3 separate regions of the Homo sapiens genome follow, and regions 2 and 3 are each linked to region 1. The links come from fine-mapping of genetic effects on gene expression. A gene starts in region 1. Each other region holds a variant in brackets. All regions are shown on one strand. Distances are from middle to middle.

Evidence for each region. PIP is the estimated chance that this variant, and not a neighbour inherited with it, causes the effect.
Region 2: its variant is fine-mapped to the expression of ABHD17C in blood mononuclear cells (TOPMed, PIP above 0.99). The same link has a PIP of 0.9 or more in T cells, monocytes and whole blood.
Region 3: its variant is fine-mapped to the expression of ABHD17C in whole blood (TOPMed, PIP 0.95).

Annotation. Positions count from the first base shown.
Region 1 is chr15:80,692,652-80,698,776 of GRCh38, reverse strand. ABHD17C (abhydrolase domain containing 17C, depalmitoylase) reads right to left here and starts at 3,467. Exons shown (of 3, transcript NM_021214.2): 1 at 2,758-3,467. The coding sequence starts at 3,347. RefSeq lists silencers at 2,644-2,703, 3,124-3,173, 3,264-3,683, 3,704-3,813, 3,834-3,993 and 1 more and an enhancer at 2,864-2,933.
Region 2 is chr15:80,716,221-80,722,345 of GRCh38, reverse strand. The region is part of intron 1 of ABHD17C (abhydrolase domain containing 17C, depalmitoylase); the gene reads right to left. Among named protein-coding and RNA genes, the nearest start is that of ABHD17C, 24 kb to the right of the region's middle. The variant C/T (reference allele first, on the strand shown) is at 3,461.
Region 3 is chr15:80,732,094-80,738,218 of GRCh38, reverse strand. All of the region lies in intron 1 of ABHD17C (abhydrolase domain containing 17C, depalmitoylase), which reads right to left. Among named protein-coding and RNA genes, the nearest start is that of ABHD17C, 40 kb to the right of the region's middle. The variant GA/A (reference allele first, on the strand shown) is at 2,354.

The DNA of each region.
Region 1 (6,125 bases):
ATGGGATGGAAGGCATTCCTGCCATGGCACTGACATGAATTAAGCTGTAAAAGAAGAGAGAATAGCATAAGAACTTGCTCCAGGCAAGTAAGAGCAGAAGAACCATACTGAACAGCAAGAGGAAAGTGGTTGAGGGGCTGATTGGCTTCAGAATTAGGTAACTCTTATGTCAGCAGAATAACCAAGACACACAAATGCACCTCCTGAAGAATCTGATAAATATGCTTACCGTGGCAATGGTGCCCTCGCAAGAGTACTAAACTGGTAGTCAAGAGACCTACTGCTGATTTGCCGCCAGTCTATCCTCCTGTCAGATGAGCTGGGTGAACGTGTGCAGTGTCCATACATGAGTTGGGAAATAAATTTAGCAATTCACAACCATCTTTTTTTTTCTTTTTTATAAAAGTGAAATAGGCCAGGCGCGGTGGCTCACGCCTGTAATCCCAGCACTTTGGGAGTCCCAGGTGGGCGGATTATGAGGTCAGGAGGTCGAGACCATCCTGGCTAACACGGTGAAACCCCGTCTCTACTAAAAATACAAAAAATTAGCCGGACGCGGTGGCGGGCGCCTGTAGTCCCAGCTACTCGGGAGGCTGAGGTAGGAGAATGGCGTGAACCCGGGAGGTGGAGCTTACAGTGAGCCAAGATGGCGCCACTGCACTCCAGCCTGGGCGACAGAGCAAGACTCCGTCTCAAAAAAAAAAAAAAAAAAAAAGTGAAATAAAACAACATATTCTGCTATGTGTGCTGCCCATAGAAAAATTACTGTTTTGTGAAGCATTGGCTTCAGGTATGTGGATACAGACGTGTATGTGTGCTTGATCAAAACGTAAAATGTGTTTCTTACTGTGAGGTTACAGTCAAAACAGTTTGAAAAGCACAAGACATGAGGATCTATAAGGTTCCTTCAAATTCTAAGCTTCGCATGCAGCCTTCAAATTCTAACCTTTTTTACAGGTGAATAAATTAACTTAGATATGAGTTCTGGTATAACATTAAATAAATCATGGGCAATCTTTAGACATACCATCAGATAATTCAAAGTTATCCGAAACAATTACCCTTAATTCAACTGATACACTATCAGATAATTCAACATTATCCAAAACAACGCCCCTTAATTCAACTAAATATGACCAAAAAAAAAAAAGTTTCCAGGAAATAACTACACTCCACGTAAGCTGTAACACAGACACACCTGTATATTTGGGGCAAAGGGTGAGCCATGTGAAAGGCTTTCATTGTAATGTGGACATGCACACACAGAAGCAATGTTCTATGGAAACTCTTCAATTAAAAAATCTACTCAAGGTAGGATTTTCATGTTTCAAATTTTAAAGATCTAATGCCAACCTTATTTTTAATACCTTTGCCAACAGCAAATTCTAGCAAGCTATAGACTGTGTGTGACACATACTTTTGAAACCCTTTACTGGAACAGGTGGCTTTTAACTACTTACAGACTCTGACCCAATGCATCTGCATATGATACATTCTCATCTGCCTAAGCCACTTTCGAAAAGCTATAATCCCAATGAGGGCATCCCCTTCAGGACTTCAGGAGGGCATAAACATGCAACATAGAGCAAATATTAAGTACTTCCCTGTTGGACAAGCCATTTTCCCAGACAGGCAAGGAGTCACTTAGGAACATATGCGTGAGTACGAATGAAAAAAAAAAATCATTAACGTTGGTGATGTGCATAAGCAAACAGGTTTTAGATAAAAACTATAGAAGGGTCCATGGCGACAATAATGCCCGGTGTACTTCCTCTGGGGACTCTTTCATCTGAAGAAATCAAATCTCATCATAGACATGGCCTCAGGTTATTTTCACCATCACTGCTATGAGGCAGGTCGGAAAGGTCACAGATACCCAAACTGGAGCACAAACAGGTAACCTGACCTGCACATGTATAAGACTTTTGTCTAATAGTGAATAAAAGTCAGGTTTTTGGTTTGCTTGTTATAAAACAACCAGGTCTAACCCCTAAACCATGCCCCCAGTTTGTGCCTGGCTCACAGATGGCCCACCCTAAACACTTTTCAGTCCTTCTGTGAATGCTAATTTAAGGTCAGAGATTTCCCAGCCCCTGCAAGTTTCAAACTTATCCTGGACTGTTATGGAGGCCGTGTGGAAGGTGCCAGGCCCACAGCTACCAGCTAACTTCCTGCCCCACAGTGCCACTACTTTGCCCCACCAGGAGGCAAACTCCCCGCTCCACCTGACGCTCCAGCTGTTTCCAAGGTTGCCCAGACATTGTCCTGCCCGCACTTTACAACCAGAAAGTCTTTTAGAGGCCATCCTGTCTCGCCCACTGACTTTACAGGGAAGGAAACTGAGTCTAGAAACCCATGTGCCTTGCCCAAGGTCACTTCAGCTCGTACAAACGAAACTCGAACCAAGTTGTTTCTTTCTGCCCGGTACTTAAGCACCCACACTCTGCCACTCGCGGTGACCGGAGCCACAAAAGACCCAGCCGGTGGGCCGGCGACACACAGGCGAGCCAAAGCAGGCAAAATTCTCTGAGTCCGAGCTCTCCAGGAACCTGAAGGCTGGCGCGGTTTTTGGAGAGGGTGGGAGCAAGCCAGGGTGGGACAAGAAAAGCGAATTTACGGCGGCCAAGGGGCTCTCCGCTGGCCCTCAGCCCCGGAGGAGGGGCCCCTCTCCTGGCAGGCCGCCCCAGGGGCCCCAAGAGACCCCCACCCCGCCTCCCCACAGCTGGAAGTCAGGCCTGGCGACCCCGGCAGGCTCACCGGGTGCGCAGCGCCTGCCACGCGGCGTCGATGTCGGCGTAGAGGTTCTTCTCGGAGGGCTTGCCCGAGCTGACGCCGTATCCCGAGTAGTCGTAGGAGAAGATGTTGCAGTTGATGCGGGAGCCGAGGCCAATGTAGAAGCTGCACATCTGGCCCAGGTCCACGGCGTTGCCGTGCGAGAAGAGCAGCGTGTAGCGGCTGGAGGGCGCGCAGCGCACGAACATGCAGCCGAGCCGGTTGTCCCGGGCCGTGCGCGAGAAGAAGACCTCGACGGCGTCCAGCTCGCGCTGCGAGTACTGCCAGTCGGCGCGCTCGCTGAGGTGCAGGCTGCACGCACCGGGCCCCGCGCCCGCGCCCTCCTCGGGCTGCTGCGGTGCCGGCTGGGCCGCGGCGGCGGCGGCGGTAGCCTGGGCCGGGGCCGGGGCGGACGCGCCGGCGCCGCGCTGCTCCGGCGCCAGCACCGTGTAGGTGGGCTCGGGCGGCAGGAAGGCCAGCTTGGCGGCGATGCGGCTCGGGCAGGGCGGGCAGCAGAAGAGCCAGCACAGCTCACCCAGCGAGAAGCCGTTCATCCTGGGGCCTGGCTCGGGCATCGGGACGGCCTGGTGCCCGCCGCCGGCCCGGCTGGCTGGCTGGCTGGCTGGCCCGGGAGGACGGAGGACGGACGCGCGGCGAGGGAGCTGGCAGGCGAGCGCGGAGGGCGGCTGCAGCCCGCCCGCCCGGCGGCAGGAGGAGGCGGAGGCGGAGGAGGGCAGGAGGCGGGGCCGGCCCGGCGGGCGCGGCGCTCGGAGCCCGGGCGGGTCAGCGGCGGCCCCGGAACCCAGGCGAGGCGCGGGCGGCCCGGGCCCGCGCGCGGCACACAAAGCCGGCGGCGGCGTCCATGGCCGGCTCGTGCGCGCCGCCCCCCGCTCCCGTTCCCGCTCCCGCACGCCCGCCGCCGCCGCCGCCGCCGCCGCCACTTCCGGGTTACCGCGCGGCGGCGCCGCCGCTGGGACGCGGCGCAGAGCCGGGCATCGGGGCGGGGCGCTGCGGGCAAGGGCGCGGGCACCTTCCCCGGCCTGGGAAGCACCTTCTCGACCTGCGGCCGACGGGGGCTTCCAGGCGGCTCCGGGGCCCGGAGAAGCTGGGTGCCGGGGCTGGGGGCTCTGCGCCCGGACAGCTGGGCCGATCTGCAGAGGGGACCCTGGAGGGGGTGCATGTGTCCCGGGGTGGACCGCTCCCCTCCCCTCCCCCTGGGATTCCCTCCCCCAAATCCAGGTTTCTCCCGTGGATGGAGGTTCTTGGGAGTCTACTGAAAAGGAAACTAAGGGGTGGACAAGAGTTGGAATGTGCCCGAAATATTTGGCTCTCGTGTGTGCTGCTTTCTGAACTGGCTCAGTACCAAAAGTTCTCAGCACCGTAAGGGGTACCGGGGTTGTGGGATAGGGTGGTCATCAGTGTGTTTCTTATTAGGAGAGGCTGTTTCTGTATAGGTAGCAACAGCGTTTCCTTTCTAAGGGCATGGTTTTACCCTTAGTACATTTCTGTATCTATAAAAGTCAGCTGTTAGAACAGGAGGGTACTGTATTTAGCAACAAACCATGTTGAGGTTGTCATTTCTAATCCCACGTGTGGCAGATTTTCCGGTAGTAAGTATATACTAGGTATCGTTTACAGTGTTTGTGTCTCTAGAGTTGTTTTGGGTCCAGGATTTTTCAGTGGTCTTAGTCATGAACGATTCTTATACTGCTTTAAATCTACTGTAATCTTGGCAGCCACCTTTACATGATTTTTCAAATATAACTCTCGGTGCCTTGAAACTGTGCTCTGGTGCCAGTTTCCACAGAGCCTTCTATACTTCCTTTTTCCCGCCTGATTTGGCAGCTGAAGAATTCCCTTTCAGGAACTGACAGGAGATACCCTTCCTGGACTGCCAGCAGGGCAGCTAGAGACTGGGAGGTTGGCACAATCCCTACGCTGGGTCTGTTGTTTTAACTCACAGATGTCCTGAGAATTTTACCTTTCGTTGTGACTTTCCACAGGACGAATATTTTGAGCACCGTCATCTAAATGAATTGCCGATACTGATTTCATTAACCTTCAGGACCTCGCTTTTAATTTTTTCTTTTTTAAGAGACAGGGTCTTACTGTATTGTCCAGGCTGGACTCCCAACTCCTGGGCTCAAATGACCCTCCGGCCTGCCTCCCAAGTAGCTAGGACTACCGGCACATGCCACCTTGCCCAGCTAGGACCTGGGTTTTAAAAGGCCATTTCTTCACTAAAACAATTTTACTTGTTTTTGAACTATTCAAACTTGATTTTTAAAAACCTGGTAACAAAGCCTGTCCAGATTGCATATTTGAAGTCTGTTTTGAAGGTTTTCACACTTGGTGAAACTCTTCACATAAAGCCCAATTCTAGCTTTGCAGGTTTGCATTTCCTTTTTTTTTTTTTTTTTTTTAAAAAAAGAATTTTTCTGCGAAAATCCTTTAAAAAGAAAAAAAAGCTTTATACAGCTGGGCACAGTGACTCACGCCTGTAATCCCACCACTTTGGGAGGCTGAGGAGGGTGGATCACTTCAAGTCAGAAGTTCAAGACCAGCCTGGCCAACATAATGAAACTCCGTCTCTACTGAAAATACAAAAATTAGCCGGCCATGGTGGCGTGCACCTACAATCCCGGCTACTCAGGAGGCTGAGGCACGAGAATCACTTGAAGCTAGGAGGCAGAGGTTACGGTGAGCCGAGATCATGCCACTGCACTCCAGCCTGGGTGACAGAGTGAGACTATGTCTCAAAAAAATAAAAAGGCTTTCTAACTTGCTACACATTGGTATACTTTGGTCACTTTATTGTATTCAGCATTTATGTATGTAATGTTTTTTGTGCTCACAGCATCCACTGTGTTAGGTGCTACAGCTACCAAGGTGAGTAAGATAGTCCCTGCTCTCAGATACCTTACAGTCTAATTAGGGCATCAGCAGAAGATTCAAAACAGTTTTTATGTGCCTTTAAAAAAAATCAAGTCCTCATAAAAGCTAAGAAGATGGTCTTGCGTCCTGATTCAGTGGTGATATTTCTATGGGGAGCTAAGGTTATAGTCGAGTGCATTAGTCCCTAATCTAATTCAGAACAAGAATCAAACTTTGGGAACTGAGATGAAAGGGTATCTAACAGCCCCCTAGTCAGTCTTTCTCAGATACCACTCCTCTCACCTGTCCTTTATAAGAATTGAATAGCCCTTAGTTCATGAAAGGGGGGAATGATGAGAGTCTCAAGTACTCGTCTTCTGTGCTGCTGATGGAAAAGACAGTCTTTATATTTCAGATGGCCTGGCAGCAGTGTTAGCATTGTTAGAAAAATCTAAAAGCTAGATACTTGTTTATTTATA
Region 2 (6,125 bases), 24 kb before region 1:
AACATTAAAAAAAAAAAAAAAAAAGATTCCTTTGGCTTCTAGTTCAAAATGATGACCTGAGCCCATCTGTTCACTTTTCAACCAATCCAAACATCACTGGAAAAGCAGCATAAAAATTAGAAAGAAATAAACTTACAACAGCAGAGAGAATAGGAAGACAGGGAAAAATCAGAAGGAATTCCAGTGCGCTTCTCGGTAACTGAAGGTGTGTGGAAACAAACTGACGGATAAAATCGAGTGGAGAACTCTGTCCAGGACATGCTATAACAGGGCTGCAGGGAAGATGGAAACCACCTGAATCCCAGAGAGGATTCCGACTCAAAATTAGCATGCAACTAAAAATAGGTAAATTATAGGAAGTCTGAACAGAAAGTTATACAAATCCAACTCCCTTCCCAACACAAAGTATAAAGCCCTCCTGGGTGAGCTAAGACTTTTAGTTGGTGCTCTCAAGGAAAGTCATCCTTATGCTGGCACTGGGGGGCCTCCTTCCCTCCAGAAACAAAGTCTACCACAACAAGGAAGGAGGCCCCCAGTGCCCTACTGGCTGCGTGTGTCTGAAAGCCCCCAGCCAAATTTCCTCTTGCGGGAGAGGCCTGGCAAGGAATACCACCTTACGCTGCACAGAGGAAACCCAACCTGGTTACCCAATCTTTCCTTCCTCAGTGTAAACTGAAGAACAAAAGTGACGACAATGACAATAGCATTTATGGCACATCTGCTATTTTGCCTGTGATGACGATGACAATGACGATAGCATTTACGGCACATTTGCTATTTGCCTGGCACAATTCTAAAAGTACATGTACTAAATGATTTAATGTTCAATACCTCTAGCAGTTGGATATCATTATTATTAAAGTACTTTGCAATTAGGAAATGAAAAAGCCAAGATTCAGCCCAAATCTGAGCCAGTGACCAGGCTCTTTATCACCAAGCTAACCTACCAACATACAAGGAAAGCTAGCAGCATCAAAGACCCAAGTATCTTTCACAGAGGACTCAGACAGGTATGGGACCAGCATATAGGGCTTAAAAAAATAAGTATACTCTTGGATTTATGAAAATATATCCTTAAAACAAGAGCAGGATGTTATGAAAAAGGGAAGTCAAAGAGTTAAAAAAAAAAAAAGACAAAAAATGATGGGTAAACACAAAATCTAACTCACAGTCCCAAAAATAAAGTTGAAGAGGCCTCTCAGAATATCAAACAAAGTAGACAAAAAGATGGAGAATATGGGAGACAAGGAAAATCCAGAGGTCAGTATAATAGAAGTTGTAATAAAAGACACCTATGAAAATGTAGGAAAAGAAATTTTGAAAGAAATATTAAAGAAAATCTCTGAGACCAAAGGATCCAAGTCTTCAGTCGGTAAGGGCCCCCATTAAGTGTTCAACATAAATTAATATTTTTTTTTTTTTTTTGAGACAGAGTCTCACTCTGTTGCCCAGGCTGGAGTGCAGTGGCGTGATCTCGGCTCACTGCAACCTCCACCTCCCGGGTTCAAGTGATTCTCCTGCCTCAGCCTCCCAAGTAGCTGGGATTACAGGCACCCGTCACCACGCCTGGCTAATTTTTGTATTTTTAGTAGAGACGGAGTTTCACCATGTTGGCCAGGTTGGTCACAAACTCCTGACCTCAGGTGATCCGCCTGCCTAGGCCTCCCAAAGAGCTGGGATTACAGGCATGAGCCACTGCGTCCGGCCATTAATAATCATTTTTAAAAGACCCTCCCTTGGAATATTTTTGTAAAACTTCAGAACACAAAGAATATATATAAAAAAATCCTAAAAGCTTCCTTAGAAGAAAAAACAGGCCAGCTTCAAGAAACCAGAACCAGTCCAGCACCAGGCTCTGCATTCCAGGTGCCTACAGGACAATGCCTTCTACATTCTCAAGTCAACTGACCTTCAGACATGGATCCATCAAGTGGTTTCTAGAAAGTTTACCTCCTACATTTCCATTCCTTTGAAGATATTACAAACTTCCTCTAGCAAAACTAGAAAGAGAACCAAGAAAGAACAAGTAGAAACTGGAAAACAGGGGGCCCACCAAGAAAGGGGAAAGGCCTCAGGTGATCCCTGAGTCCTGGGCAGGGAAGCAGAAAATTAAATTGGGAGAAAGTGAAAGGTTCCAAAAGACAAGGGAGAGTGTGATGCAAAAGACAGTGTAACAAAGAAGACAGAAACATCTGAGCAAATGATGAAACCCCACGATCCTTTTCTAAACAACAAAAAGAAAAGGAGGCTGGTTGCGGTAGCTCACGCCTGTAATCTCAGCACTTTGGGAGGCTAAGGTGGGAGGGCTTCTTGAGCCCAGGAGTTCAAGACTAGCCGGGCCAACATGGCAAAACCCCACCTCAACAAAGAATACAAAAAAATTGGTTGGGCGTGGTGGTGTGCACTTGTAGTCTCAGCTACTTAGAAGGCTGAGGTGGGAGGATTGTTGGAGCCTGGGAGGCGGAGGCTGCAGTGAGCTGAGATCACACTACTGCACTCCATCCTGAGCGATAGAACAAGACTCTGTTTCCAAAAAACAAAAAGAAAAGGTGATCACAAAATTCAGGAAATGTAAAATGTAATATAAAGAAATCATGATTCAAAGATGAAATTAGATATATAGCAGTTTTTAAGCCATGATTGGAGTACACATTTGCCTTAAATCAGAAAGATCTACAAAACATGATCTTTGAATGGGCTGGAAGCCCTGAAACCATGTGTAGAGATGAAAATGTTACTCTAGCATAACACATATCCCCATAGTAATGATATTTGCTGATTTTTTAAACTTATAAATTCAAATGATAGAAATCAATGGAAAGTCACTTGTGACTACCAGAAAGAATGGAGATGTTTGCAACCTTAATCCTGTAGTAGTAAAAGTTAGGCTGACAGCAAGTAGGAACTGGGGGTAAGGAAAGGGAGGAGAGTTCGGGTGCTCATGCAAGGGGACAGAAGAAGAAATAAAGCTCATGGACATTACCTAAAAATTACAAACACTCTCAATGAAGAACCAAAAATAACTATAAAACACTGGAAATAGTAAAAGGAAGTCCGCAAAATTGGTTAACCAAGAAAAATTCTCACTTCTTTGCAGAAAGTCAACAAATAACTGTCTAAAGTTGTTCCTGGTTATTAGGAGTCAAGAGGAAGAGGGATGGCTCTTGCTTTTCTTCGTGATCTTTTCTGTTTGACTCGTTACATTGTCTGCATATATTATTTAAGTAGAAACATTAAATGTTATCATTAAAATGCTACTCATTTATTACTAAGTCTTCTCACTGGAAGGCTGGTATATCCTAATACCTAATAACACATCTTACTGTACTTATCAAGGCATATTCTCCATTAATACCCCAAAGGCATTCCTTCTTTAAAAAAATAGAAGAGGGAGTTACTACCCTGTATGTCGCCATCATCACTGTATGAGGACATGAAATGCTGGCATTATTCAGACTGA[C/T]TGACAAAGTTACACAAAGTTATTATCTCTCTCCTCTACCTTACTCTGCCCTTCATAAATCAACCGTGTCTCTTCAGCTGTAGCAAAATGACGCCACTCTATTGGAATGATGCTGCAGTCCTCCAAGTCACCAGATGCTAATTTGCAGTAATTACATTTAAGAATCTGATCTAAAAACCAAGATTGAATATTAAGGTCAGTGGCAAGGAGATATTGATGGGCAAAGTGTGGGGTTTAAAATTACAAGAAGCGGCTGGGCATGGGTGGCTCATGCCTGTAATCCCAGCACTTTGGGAGGCTGAGGTGGGATGATCACTTGAGATCAGAAGTTCAAGACTAACCTGGCCAACATGGTGAAACCTCGTCTCTACTAAAAAATACAAAAATTAGCCAGGCATGGTGGCACATGCTTGTAATCCCAGCTACTCCAGAGGCGGAGGCAGGAGAATCACTTGAACTCGGGAAGCAAAGGCTGCAGTGAGCCGAGATTGTGCTACTGTGCTCCAGCCTGGGCAACAGAGTAAGACTCTATTTCAAAAAAATAAATAAATAAAATTTAAAAATAAAATAAAATTACAAGAAGACATTTAATATAGATAAATATTTTAAAGTCTTCAAAGCCAGTCAAAAAAAAAATAAACTACAAGCTAGAGACCTGATTTGGCAATAGTTTATGGGGGGAAATTTTTTGAGGGAGGATCTTATAATTGATCAAAAGCATGGGACTGTTAGAAAAGCTTACACGGGCAGTGTTCAAATCTCAAACAATCCTATGCTCCTAATCTAAACCACCTTCCTAACAACTCAAGTAGGCTTCTGTTTTGTTTTGTTTTTATTTAACTATTTATTTATTTTTCAATAATCAGGCAGTCTGTCTGAACTGGAACAGGTTCAGAGAGACTCCCCAGGCAGACCTCTGTATTCCATGATGATGGGGCTACCAGCTAGTAGTTCCGTTAGGCGAGCAGCAGCATCCTTACTCAGCAGTACTTGTGAAATCATGGGAATATTTTATTGCAACCATTTTCAAATTCTGTTTCAGAGCATCTTAAGCTCCCCAGGAACCTAGTCCAGGGGAGAAGGTTCGGCTTCCTACTCTGGTTCAATCCTAATTCAACTTTTGAAGAAAAATGGTTCCAATTTTTAAAAATAAAGATTGCCAAATAAAGATTTTAAAACCACTGTTAAAATGCATTTTGCAGCTGGGCACAATGGCTCACGCCTGTAATCCCAGCACTTTGGGAGGCCGAGGCGGGTGGATCACTTGAAGTCAGGAGTTCAAGACCAGCCTGGCTAACATGATGAAAATACTAAAGATACAAAAATTAGCCAGGCATGGTGGTGCACATCTGTAATCCCAGCTACTCAGGTGGCTGAGGCATGAGAATCGCTTGAAACTGGGAAGCAGAGGTTGCAGTGAGCCAAGATTATGCCACCGCCCTCCAGCCTGCGCAACAAATTGAGTCTGTCTCAAAAAAAAAAAAAAAATTTGTTGTAATTTTATAACGAGTGGAAAATAGAAAAAAATGAAAGTGCTCAAATTAATAATAAGCCCAAGACTCAAACTTAATATGGATGAGGCAAAGATGAAAAGTATTAGCTATGCCAAAACTCTTTTTTTTTTTTTTGGCCCCCATCAAATGCTCACTGGCCTCTGGCTGATAGAGTGTATGTTCAATTGTAAAGGAAAACAAGAACATGTAAAGCACATGTGTGAAAACCCAGAAATAAATGTCATTTAAAAAACTATTAATAAAAATAAAAATATAACTAGGGAAATATTTTTAAGTAAGCTTTCAATGAATGGAATCTTCCCTATAACAAGTCTATCATCCTGCTCAAAGCAATATTTTCAGAAATGCTTTTCAGATAATAGCAGGCTATTTGTTCATCTTTAAGCCTCATTAACTGGCGAGATGAGGTCATGGGGGAACAGACCCACTGCACTGCCCCTCGTCAGACCATACCTGCACTACGGGCCTGTCTCAGAAATTCTGCTCAACAGGGATGCGTTCGGAGAGAAGGACATGGATGGTGAAGAATTTGGAAATACCTTATACAAAGAATGGTCAAGGGAACTGGGAACATTCCGGCTGCAAAAGAGATTAAGTAAGAGAATAATTTAATCTACTTCACCCAGGATTTATTGAGGCTCCACTTCACGTTAGGTTCTGTAGGGAATTCAAATATGAACAAGACGCCACTTCTGCCTTCATGGAGCTTACAAACCAGCAGTTTCCAAGTATCTGATGGGATGTAAAGTGGAATGACAACCGAGAACTAGGGATTTAAGATGATTTCCTTTATTAATGGCATCTTACACTAGAGATCCAATCTACCAAGAAACCTACAGAGGCTCTAGACATGATCGTAGCTCTTCTATTGCCAGGGCCCCCTCATTTTAGGGTTAAAGGGAACTTCTTACTTTGTAGAAATTGTGGGGGACCTACAGACTGGCAAGAACCCATGAAGCAGAGACGTTTCCAACAAGGTCACAGGCCTTGTCTTACGCGGCTGTCCCTGTGGTCTTGAGACAGAAGCATGTCGGAGCTTAGTCTGTGGAATTAGGTCAAAGAGCCTTTACTGAGAACTGCCAAGGACCAGGCTCCTGAGCAGCTAGTTATAATCAACATCCTTTCTCCCTGGAGTACGCACATCTCCAGGA
Region 3 (6,125 bases), 39 kb before region 1:
GCTGTACCCTGACTCACGCTAACAGCATACACTCTGATGGCCTACCAGCTTCCATCCCAGCTTCTCCCTTTTTCCCAAGGCAGAACCTGAGAATCCCTCAGGCATAATCAATGCCCACAGCTGACTTCTTCTCTTCTCTCCCAGACCTGTTTTCCTTCCAATTCTATCTATATAAACTGTCCCACTCATGTCACTCCCTACTCCAATCCGTCCTTCCCAACAGATATATCTTCCTTGAAAAAAGAAAAAAAAAACAAACTTTTTTTATGCTGCTTTGTTCATCAAACTCTTTGGACAATCACTGTGCTTAGGATAAAAGTCCATGTCCACAATCTAGCCCCATCCGACTATTCCAACATTTTCTTTTCTCTCCAGGTGGCCCTTCTGCTCCTGTGGCTCAGGCTCTTCCCTCACTGGCTCATAAACACCCCCTGCCTGGAATGTTCTCCCTCCTTGTCATCACCTGGACAACTCTGGGGTCCTACAGGTCCATTCCGGTCCTACCTCGTCCTTTCACATTTCTTGACTCCTCCAGTCTACAGACATAATTTTCTTTCCTGAGCCATCCACTCAGATGCTTAATGACAGGAAGGTGGATGTGTTTAACTGCACCGTGGCATGCCCTACACTTACAATGACGATGTAAGCTCCACAAGGGTAGATAAAATTGTATCTCCCTTTGGGCAAGTTAACAATTTCCAGGCTCAGGGATCAGTGAGTTGGGGGGCACCTTTTGCTTTGAACAGAATGTGATTCTAGCCAAAAGCTGTTTTTGAACAAATTAAAATTAAATTTCAGACACAGTCATCATTCCAGTGGACATATAATCCATTCGAAGTTTACCATCACCTTGGGGATCTAGACAGGAACAGAATCTCTTGCAGCAAAAACAAAGACCGTACTAATATTTAGTAAGCATGCAAGCATTAACATTTTTAAGCATGATGTAAGATTTTCTTAAAACAGAGCACAAGAAATTAAAGTCTCCCAATTTTTACCGGGGGAAGCCACAGCCCTGAATCATTACTCTTTGTCACGGGCAGTGCGATGTGTGCAGTAATCCCCTTTGCAAGTTTTTGCTCTCAGCCTCTCCCAATGTCTACCATCCTTTTGCAGTCACAGGCTATGCTGAGTACAGGTTGATCAGCACGAATTTGGGTTTCCATTCCCACTCAGCATATGGGAATGGGACATGCCCCCAAGAGCACCCTGAAACCGAGGGTTTGGCAGCCATCTCAGCAGCAAGAGGAAGCACTGAGGCAGGAAGTTCCTGCAATGGAGGCTGACAGCGCCAAGGAGATGGTGTCTCATGGGAACGATCACTTATAAAGTTAAAATCTGTTTGTTTTTGTTTTAATGTAAGGCTTGCTTTTCCTTCTACAACCATGAACAAGCCTGGCCTCCCTGAGACACACTGCATCCTGTTTAAGTTAATGGGCCTTGACTTTGTCCTTTGTCAGGAGCTCTCCCATTTATCTTCAGAGAAGCACGCTTGGCACAGTTCCACTGACTTTGAAGTCAACATTTTAAATATTTCAGAGTTAGAATTCCTAGTGGAAATATCTTAAGACATAGGAAGAAGATAAATACACAAGGTAACGTGAATGTTAACTGAAGGATGAGGTCTGAGGATACTGAGAAATCCTACTAACTTTATAAACTTTAGATAAACATTAAAAAAATAAAAATTAAACTTTAGAGAAAAGCCTCAGAATAAAAAGACTGACTATGCAAGGGAAGCAGGTGTGTAAATAGGACCAGCCAGAAAACACAGTCCCTCGGTCATGTGGAATACTTTTGCCCCAGGCAAACCTTTTAGCCAAAACTTAACAAACGTGCTTTATATTTTAATTATGAGGAAGAGGAGGAAAAAAGCATCAATCACCTAAAATGTACTTATTGTTCCTTAAAATACAACTTTGTTTTGAGGAACTGTCAAAAAAAACAAAAACACGTTTGTAGATTTGGAAAATTTTTTAGCATTATACTAAGTAAAATTTCACAAACAGACTTCTATTGGTTGTTCATTCCAATGGTGAAAACAAAGAAAACACATTTTAAAGTATCCGCTGTTTTGGTGCTATGTGGATAAAAATTTAAAGGTTAGTAATGTCTGCTGTATATTTTTTCCTTTTTCTAATTTTTAACTAATTTGATTAAAAGGGTCATTTATAAGCAGCTCATTATAACCCCTGGAAGTTTCTAAAACCTGGGCACAGTCCAGGTATTCTCTCAACAGTGGTTATAAAAGAAAACATACCAAATACAGCATTAAAAGTAGGCTCAGTCCCTTCAAGTAACACTGGATGTAAGGAGGGTAAACCATGTGCTCTTGAGTTACAGGTCTTTGGGG[GA/A]AATAATGAAGGAAATGAGATTCAAAACAAGAAATAACACTAAAACCAAGTATAAATGTAGGCAAAATTAATATTATGGTCAAGTTCATTGAGGTACAGCAAAGAGAATGATCGAAATGGGGACCTGAAAGTCGGAAAAAGCTTCAGGTAGAAGGTGGAGCTCAAAGCCAATGTCAAAGGAGAGGAGATTTAAAAACATGAAGAAAGGCAATAGCAGCAGGGGAGGGAGAGTCTCTCTTGAACACGGCACTGGAGCCCGCCCTGGCTGGAGCGAGGGTTTGATGGTAGGCAGCGGCAGGGGCGTAAAAACAAGGAGGAAACAGAGTGTGGAAAGGCTTGGGAACGCACACAAGATCCGACAAGGTGGAGGTGGGTGGTGAGAGTGGCAATGGGAAGGAGGGTGCTGGGTGGGAAGAAGTGCTTTGCAGAAGAGTGTTGCTCTTATCCCACATGCATGTAGCAGGTAGAGGGGCACAGGGAGAGATTCAAAGACAATTCTATAGGTAAGTGTTGAGAAAATTGGCACAAATTGGGAGGTTGGGAAGGAGATAATAGGTAGAGTTGGATTTTTGTCTGTTTCAGTAGGAAATAAGTTTAGTTTGGGAATATATTGAGTTTCAGGGAACTTTGGAACATGCTAATAAGCAGGGCATAAAAGGTTAACCTCTCAGGGTTAATTACAAAGAAAAATCTTCCTGAAACTGGATATCTATGTTAAGAAAGACCAGTCCCTGAGCTCTCCTCATTCTTTCTCCTGCCACAGTGCAGAGGAAGACAAGTGGCCGGAAGTAGCAGCCTGGGGGATATCTGTTCAAGCAAGGACACAGGAGCAGAGCTAACAGCAGAGGCTCTGGAAGGCCCAGGTCCCATGCGAGATGATGATACCATAATGCACAGAGTAACAAGGGCATTTTAGGAAAACATAACTTACAAAAGGGCTTGGTGTGGTGAAATACCTGCTAATCAATGTAGCCTTTCCTAAACCTATTCACTCATTTCAATACATATCAAGACAAGCTTTACCTAATTTTTGTAAAGCAGCATCCACCCTTAATGTATGATGCTTCATTCTATCCTAGATGTTTGAAATTCTTTTCAAATAGTGGTTCAAGGAAGGGCCCTCTGTGTCATGTCAAAATCTACCTTCAAAAGAATGTAATACTTTATGACATTCAAGACTATTCTCTCCTACCATATACCCTTTCTCTGTGCCAAAGCAAAAATAAACAAGACCTGACATGATGACTTCATTTTAATTTTTTAAAATTTAAAAAATTTTATCTTCCATTTTTCAGAGGAAAAGTTATAGTCCTAAAAAATATAAAATTAAATCTCTTTGGATCTGCTACAAGTAAAATAGAATAATTTGCTTGAACTTATCTGAGTATAATTGTGCATGAAACTGTTCTAATAATAATGGAGATTCTTTTGGCATTCTGTAATTATTTAACATGTTGGAAAAGCCAGAAAATGCTGCCTTCTCTCTACAACTGCACAAATATCTGTCGAATGGTTAGAAAGCTACCTCCTCCACAGGGCATTTGAGCAGACTGCACAAGCTGGCTTATATAAAACATCTAGGCCAGACATGGTGGCTCACACCTGTAATCCCAGCACTCTGGGAGGCCGAGGTGGGAGGATTGCTTGGGCCCAGGAGTTCAAGACCACTCTGGGCAACATGGTGAATCCCTATCTCTACCAAAAATACAAAAATTAGTCCGGCATGGTGGTGCACATCTGTAGCCCCAGCTACTCGGGAGGTTGAGGTAGGAGGATGGTTTGAGTCCGGGACGTGGAAGTTGCAATGAGCCAAGATCGCACCACTGTACTCCAGCCTGGGTGACAGAGCCAGACCCTGTTTTAAAAAAATAAATAAATAAATAAATAAATAAATAAATAAATAATAAAATAAAATTCACCATTCCATTTCCAAGAAACCCAGCCAAAAGTTAAGGTACAGATTTCATGAATTCTCTGTTGGGGAAAAAAAAACTTTAAATATTGAATTTAATTATCAATTTGATTGCCAAGGCTGAAAAATATTTCTTAGAACTAGAAACTCAAGTATCTAATTTCTAATTGTTTTATCTCTTTGTAGGATGAGTTCATACAAGTGCTATAGTGGAGGAGACACAGATGGTTGGTGAGTTTGCCTGCTTGACACTGACTTGCAAATGACTGTGAATCTGAGACAGCAATGCTACATTTAGCTCCTGCACTAAAACTGCTGAGATGTTTGCCAGGAAGTTCTTGGATAGTGACTTACTGGGGATAGAGAACGTGTATGACCTGTTCTGTCTTTTTGGAGCATCCCTCTGCCTCCCAGTCCTTGAACTCTAGGTGTGAATACATGTCCAGGTCTGGGCAATAAGAGTATTGAATCCTCCTGGCCAGAGTGACTTCTTAGGGGATAAGCCTAGGACCCAAGCCTGGTCAATCCCAGTCCTCCCCAGGATGTCAGCACCCTCTTCTGCTGAGCCTGGGGCCTCCTTGAGAATTACACAAGGAAGAAAGCAAAGCTGAGAGCAAGTGAGCCTGCTTGATGCCATCGTCTGAGGCCCTGTACCCAGACATGAGAGCTTAGAGTCCTCTCTCTTAATGCTGGACTAAAACAGGGATTCTGTAAGTAACCTGGAGTATGTGGTCATGACCATGAGGAGGTCGGGGACAGGGGAGGGAAGGTGGAGATTCGTAGAGGACATAGAAAGAAGAGTACGCTCTGCAATCAGACAGCACAAGGTCTGAACCCAGCTCTGCCTTGCACCTGTAGCACCCTCTCCACGGCCATAGAAAGGTGGAGTAAGGCTTGCCTCTGGGACTGCTGCAAGAATTAAATAGGCAGTGAGTGAAACTGACAGGCTGGGGCAGGCCAGCCTTAATCCTCTCTCCTGCACTTGTAGTCCTTCACCCATCCAGGCCACTTTCCTGTTTCCATAAACAGCGAGGCCTAAGTGGAGTCAAATGCAGCCCCAGGACACCACAAGGCCACATGTGAACTGAAACCTGAATGCTGGCCCACTTATTCCATCAGCTCTGGCTCAGCACTGCCCACTCTTGCTGTTTACTCCCTTAAATGTGTTTTGCAAACATTCAAAATGGAAGTGTGTTAAACAGACACTTTCCGCTGGGCAGAACCCATGAAGCAGCGAAGCAGCCCTTTGGCCCCTCCTTGATGGCATCTTCAGTTCTGTTCTCCTGGGCCTAATCCTCTCTTTGTGCCCGTCTTACCTTCTGTTTTCCTTGTATTTCCTACTTTCCATTCTGCAACCAGAAACCTTCTATCCCCCCACCCCGTCCTTTTTAAAAGCTTAAAAAGTTCATAGCATCATTTGTGGAAATATACCAAACACAGGATAGAAATGAAAAGGCCCTTAGAGAATCACACAGATGGTCCACTTTATTTCATAGAGAAGGAAACTAAAGCTCTGAGAGAGGTTAATGACTTAACTCAGAATGGAAACTGCCAAGAGAGCTGCTTGCGATAAGCCTATCAGAGTCTGGGATATGGACTAAACGTGGAGAAGCACGGTGAGCTCAGTGAATTACAGAAGCTGGCAGAAGCATCGCTGAATTGAGGTAGTCTGCACAGCTTCTGCATCAGGCACAACTGTCTGAATTCCACCACTGCAGCTAAAAAGTCTGGGGCAAGTGGTCCAACCCTGCTCTGGGTGTCCGTTCTCTCGTGTGTAAAATGGGGCTCTGAACTAACAAAGCTGGTGTGTAGCTGCCCAGTCACATTAGTTATCACCACCCCCTCCTTTAGCTCACAGG